2 separate regions of the Homo sapiens genome follow, and region 2 is linked to region 1. Evidence: fine-mapped expression QTL. A gene starts in region 1. The other region holds a variant in brackets. All regions are shown on one strand. Distances are between the middles of the regions.

The links.
Region 2: its variant is fine-mapped to the expression of SRL in skeletal muscle (GTEx, PIP above 0.99).

Annotation. Positions count from the first base shown.
Region 1 is chr16:4,240,728-4,243,633 of GRCh38, forward strand. SRL (sarcalumenin) reads right to left here and starts at 1,353. Exons shown (of 6, transcript NM_001098814.2): 1 at 1,280-1,353. The coding sequence starts at 1,340.
Region 2 is chr16:4,213,030-4,215,935 of GRCh38, forward strand. The region is part of intron 1 of SRL (sarcalumenin); the gene reads right to left. Among named protein-coding and RNA genes, the nearest start is that of SRL, 28 kb to the right of the region's middle. The variant C/G (reference allele first, on the strand shown) is at 1,193.

The DNA.
Region 1 (2,906 bases):
CCCAGCAGCTGGGGCTGGGGGGCAGCACAGGAGCGGCCACGAAGGGAGAGGGTGGCAGCGGCTTGGGGCTCCGGATCCAATTACGCGGCTGTTTCCATACTTAGCCGCCTGACAGCCGCCTGGAATACTCAGCACTCAAGCCGCTGCAGCCCTGCAGAGCCCAAATTAACTCAAGGACAGACAAGGGCAGGGCCCAGCAGCACATGCAGTGGCTGGAGCCCCCCACCTTACATCTTGAGTCCCCGAGAAATAGCTTTTGTTCCCACCCACTGCCTGCTCTCCCTGCAGGGACTGTGCCCCTGCAACCCCCTATTCAACCTCAAAGACCTGAGAGGCTGGACTCTGGGCCTCTCCAGTCCCAGGTACGGACCTAGGCTCAGAGCCCAGCTTGGGGGAAGACTGCCGAGTCATGAAAAGACTCGGTGGGCAGTCCGGATCCTAGGGGGATCCCCGGAGCACCTCCCTAAAAGCATTCCCTCGGGGAACCTGGCCTCAGGAACCTTAGGAACAAGAGAGGTGGCAAAACAATCTGGCATCTCCTCCATAGCCTATAGATAACCCCCATGCTGCAACCCAAGCCACCACCTCTGCTACCCAAAGTGCTGAGATGTCAAAGGGAAGCCTCAGCACACAGAGCCAAGCCCCTTTTCTGATGGAAGCCCCCACCCCGAGCAGAGGCTCTACTCCAGAACGGGCCCCGTTCCTCTTCTGAATTGCATCCAATGCTGTTTCCAGCCCAACCGCCAACTCTATTTCCGATCTTATCCCAAACCAATTCCAATTCTATCTCACTGCTCCCAAAACGGTCCCCACCTTTGCCCACTGTATCCCCTTCTGTCCACGCAAACCCAGTTCTCTTACCCGAGTGGGGCCTCCGCCTTATATCCCACCAGGTGGGAGGGTCACCTCAACGACCTCCAGCTCCCAGACTGTGCTATTTTGTCCGTCTCAGAGGCTCCCCCGTCTCGACTTTGAGGGCCCTCTTTCCCACATCTACTGGCCAGACTCCTCTCTGACCCTGGCTCACAGCTCAGCTCTGTTTGCCGTTCCCACTTCCTCTGGCCTTCCTGAGGGCCCCGCAACTGTGCTGCTATTCTCCAGCACCCAGCTCTTTCTCTGAGGCCCCAGGCCCGGGGAAAAGAGAAGGGTAAGAAGACACCAGCCAAGAGCCAGGGTTTGCCATCAGCCCCGACCCCCTACCCAACCCATGGTAGACAGAAAACCTTGGAGGAAGCGTGGGGGACCAGTCTGGGCTGGGTCATGCTGGGAGGGGCCCTACCTGCTTGTCCTGAGAACAGGAGCGAGGCCAGGAGGCAGCCGAGCAGGACCAGCGCCCTCATGGTGACTGCCAAGAGAGCCCAGCTGCTCCTCGCCTCTATTTATACGGCCGGCCGTGGCAGCAGGCGGTGGAGGGGGGAGAGGGGTCACACAGTCACCAGGGCAACTAGGAGGGTGTGATGGGGAAGAAGCCCGGACCCCAGAAGGCTGTGCAGAGGCTCAGGCTGCGCCACTGCTGTCCCAGCTGCCAGGCCCCAGAAGGCAGGGCCGTGGCTGGATTCTCTTCCCCCGAACCCCTGCAGCCCTGGGATCACATGACATGGGTCACAGGGCGTGGGTGACAGGCATAAAATGGAGCATCCCTTGGGCTCAGGCGGTGGAGCTGGGAAGCTGAGTCTTCCCAGAACTTGCAATAACTTGACCTGAAGTCTCGGCAGGTTAAGGACCTTGACACGCCTGCACTGGAAGGAGGAAGTTGTAAGGCCACGCAAAAGAAATCCTATTTAACAGCCACTGATCCACATGCTAGAGAGTGGTCAGCTACGGCAAACCCGCAACATGTGACCTCTGAGGTCCAAGGCTGCAGCCCTGGAACAACCTTCCCAGCCTCTGGAAGAGAGAGAGCACAGACCAGAGGGAGAGGGGCACACTGAGACACAAGCTGAGGCTACGGTGTAAACTGGAGGATGGAGCAACAGATATCCATTTCCAATGGCCCAGGGGTTCCAGAACATTCAGTCACCTCTGCAAAGTGCTTTTTTGTTTATTTGTTTTTGATAGAGGATCTCGCTCTGTCACCCAGGCTGGACTGCAGTGGCACAATCATCACTCACTGCACTCGACCTCCCAGGCTCAATCAATCCTCCCAACTCAGCCTCCCAAGTAGCTAGGACAGTAGTGCCACCATGCTGTACTAATTTTTTAAAATTTTTTGTAGATGGCCCAGAGAGCCAGTTGTAAGAAGCCAAGGGAAAGCAGACACTTGCTTGTCTGGTCGGGGTACAGTGTCACTGTGTGGGGAAGAGGTAGAAGCCAGCCTTGGAGGAAAGGAACTAAATCAGGGCCAGGCACAGTGGCTCACACCTGTAATCCCAGCACTTTGGGAGGCCGAGGCGGGTGGATCACCTGAGGTCAGGAGATTGAGACCAGCCTGGCCAACATGGTGAAACCCCATCTCCACTAAAAATACAAAAATTACTGGGTGTGGTGGCGGGTGCCTATAATCCCAGCTCCTCAGGAGGCTGAGGCAGGAGAATCACTTGATCCCAGGAGGCGAAGGTTGCCATGAGCCAAGATTGCACCACTGACTCTAGCCTGGGCAACAGAGCGAGACTCTGTCTCAAAAAAAAAAAAAAAAAAAAAAAGAATTAGGCATCTGGTAGGCACTTGACTTTTTTTTTTTTTTTAATCTTTTTTAAGAGACAGGGTCTCTGTCACCCTGGCTGGAGTAGTGACACGATCATAGCTCACTGCAGCCTTGAACTCCTGGGCTCAAGCCACCCTCTCACCTCAACCTCCGAGGGGCTGGGAATACAGGTGTGCACCACATCTGGCTAATTTTTTTGTTTTTTGCAAACATGGTCTTCCTATGTCACTCGGGCTGGTCTCCAACTCCTGGGCTCAAGCAA
Region 2 (2,906 bases), 28 kb before region 1:
AGACTTGCCCAAGATTGGGGCAGGGGTGGGACAGAGTCCAAATATATGAACCTTAGTCTGGAGTTCTTTTTGCCCCCATGGAGTTCACAAACCATGTCCCATGAAGTGCTAGGGTTCCATAGAAGTGACTCATGGGGTGAGGAAAGATCAAACAGCAGAGACAGCCACCCACTTTGTACTTCCTGCTCTCCTTGAATTTGTCTGCCCCAGTGTCCACAGAGAAAGACTGCAGGGAGATTGGCAAGCCCTGCTCCTTTACTCTCCTCGCTTCTTCCTTCAAAATATTAGTATCTGCCTTGAGCCTCCTATCCATTATTTTCTCCAACGTCCCAAGACATCCTGCTTACAGCATCTTTTTTTTTCTTTTTCTTTTTCTTTTTTTTTTTTTTTTTTTTTTTTTTGAGACAGGTCTTGCTGTCGCCCAGGTTGGGGTTCAATGGCACAATGACACCTCACTGCAGCCTCCACCTCCTGGGCTCAAGGGATCCTCCCACCTCAGCTCCCCCAAACAGCTGGAACTCCATGTGTGTGCCACCACATCCAGCTGATTTTTTTCATTTTTGTAGAGATGAGGTCTCGCTATGTTGCCCAGGCTGGTCTCAAACTCCTGGCCTCAAGCGATCCTCCCACCTCAGCCTCCCAAAGTGCTGGGATTACAGGTGTGAACCACGCTTACAGCATATTTTCACTTTGCCAGTCCACACGTGCCAGGCTCTCAGCTGGGTCATCTCCTGCCCTCACGTAGGACTCCATCTTTCCAAGGTAGTTTCCTGTGCTTATTCTTCTCTGATGCTCCTAGCAGCCCTCTGAGGCAGAAAAAGCAAGGGTTGTTAACCTCTCTTGAAATGAGGAAACAAACACACGGAAGTCAAGTCGTTTGCCTCACAAGTCATTCCAGGGATGGGCTGGAACTCAGGCCAAGAGACAGAACAAAGCTCCCTGGGAGCGACCATGACCTGCTGAGCTGTTCAAGCCCAGATACCCAGCTTCTGGGGCTGGGTCAACGTGTACCTGTGTGTTTCACAAGGGGATTCTACAGAACACCAGCATTTCGGACCCTCTGCACTAGCCATCCTCAGTACCAAGGGCCAGGAAGCTCTGTCTTGAAGTTGAAACTAGAGATGGAGAGAATAGAGGTCAGGACCTGTTTTCAGCCCACCTCTGGGTGTTGAATGTATTCAGTGCCTTCGTG[C/G]AATCAAATGTAGATTCTATTCCAGCCCGTCCAAGTCTCCTTAGCACATGTTTATAACAAGTACCTGCCAAGGTTATTCTTCCACATGACTTCTCATCCATTTGAACTAGAGCTAGCAAGTCCAAAGTCATGCGTAAGTAAAATACCTCTGACCATTACTCATACACAGTTATGCAAATCAGTCATTAGTAACAGAATCCCCAGCGGGGGCAGGAATCACTCTCCAAATCTCTGCCTGGTTCATCTGTCCCAGAGAGTGAGGAGCACCAGCCATGGCATACATGTGAGCCCCATGTCTTGCCCCCATCCACCCCCCGCCCCACGTTTTGGCTCTCATTGGCTGTATATTAAGTGCAGCAGGGAGCAATTCAGAAAACAGAGTTCATGCCGCAGAGCAGGCAGCCTGCCCCCTTCCTTGTTCTAGATCTTGTCTCTGAACACTCGTGGACCGGGCAAACGTGGGCCAGCAGCCTCTTCTGGTGTCCTGTTTTTCCTTGACTTTATCCTACTGGGTAAACATTCACTGCTCAGGACCCCTTGCTCTTCCACTTTTTTTTTTTTTTTTAGACGAAGTCTCATTCTGTCGCCCAGGGTGGAGTACAGTGGTGCGATCTTGGCTCACTGCAACCTCTGCCTCCTGGGTTCAAGCGATTCTCCTGCCTCAGCCTCCCGAGTAGCTGGGATTACAGGTGCCTGCCACCACTCCTGGCTAATTTTTGTATTTTTAGTAGAGACAGGGTTTCACCATGTTGGCCAGGCTGGTCTCAAACTCTTGACCTCAGGTGATCCACCCGCCTCAGCCTCCCAAAGTGCTGGGATTACAGGCATGAGCCACTGCACCCGGCCTCTTCCACTTCTTAGATGAAGTCTTAGGACAACTTTGCAGAAGGCTGTTGCCCATAAGGACCCGAGAAGAGAAATTCTGGCTGGAGGAAGGCTTGTCTGCATTCTCCCAGGACCCCTGAGGTCCTCTTCTGCCATTCTCTCAGCCTTTCCCTCTTCTCCCAACATGGGCGACCAGAGTGCAGGGGCTGAGGCAGCCATTCTTGGAAGGCTTCTTTGGCTTCCTGGCCATGCTCCTAAAGTCAAGGCTAATCCCACTGGGACAGCTTGTCCCTGGCTGGACTCTAGCCCTTAAAATGATTCATCCAGGGAATCAGATACAATGACAAAAGTATGACAGGGTACAATGACAAAGGTAGCAATCAGAAAGAACCTTGGGATTTGGGGGTCCAGAGAGATCTTCTGATAGACCAACTGGCTTGATTTCACTCATGAACAAAACCCCAAAACCCTGGTAAGTGCTTGTCCCAAGGCCATGGGGCTAGTTAAGGTAGTAGGCAGCAGTCTGCTTCTAGAACTCAGCTCTCTATGGACGCTCTCCCAGCAGTGGGCCAGCCAATAAGAGGGTCTAAGTCTACCCTAGGACAGTGATTTCTTAGCCCACCCTCTTCTACTCTTCAATAACAACTGTTTTAGGCTGGACGCAGTGGCTCTGAGAGCCCATGGCTCACACCTGTAATCCCAGCACTTTGGGAGGCCGAGGTGAGAGGATCCCTAGAGCCCAGGAGTTTGAAACCAGCCTGGGTAACAAAGCAAGACCTCTGTCTTGCTTACTACTTGCTTTGTCTTACTACTGGCCCATCTTTCCAAAAAATTTTAAAATTAGCTTGGCATGGTAGCGTGCGCCTGTGGTCCCAGCTACTGGGGAGGC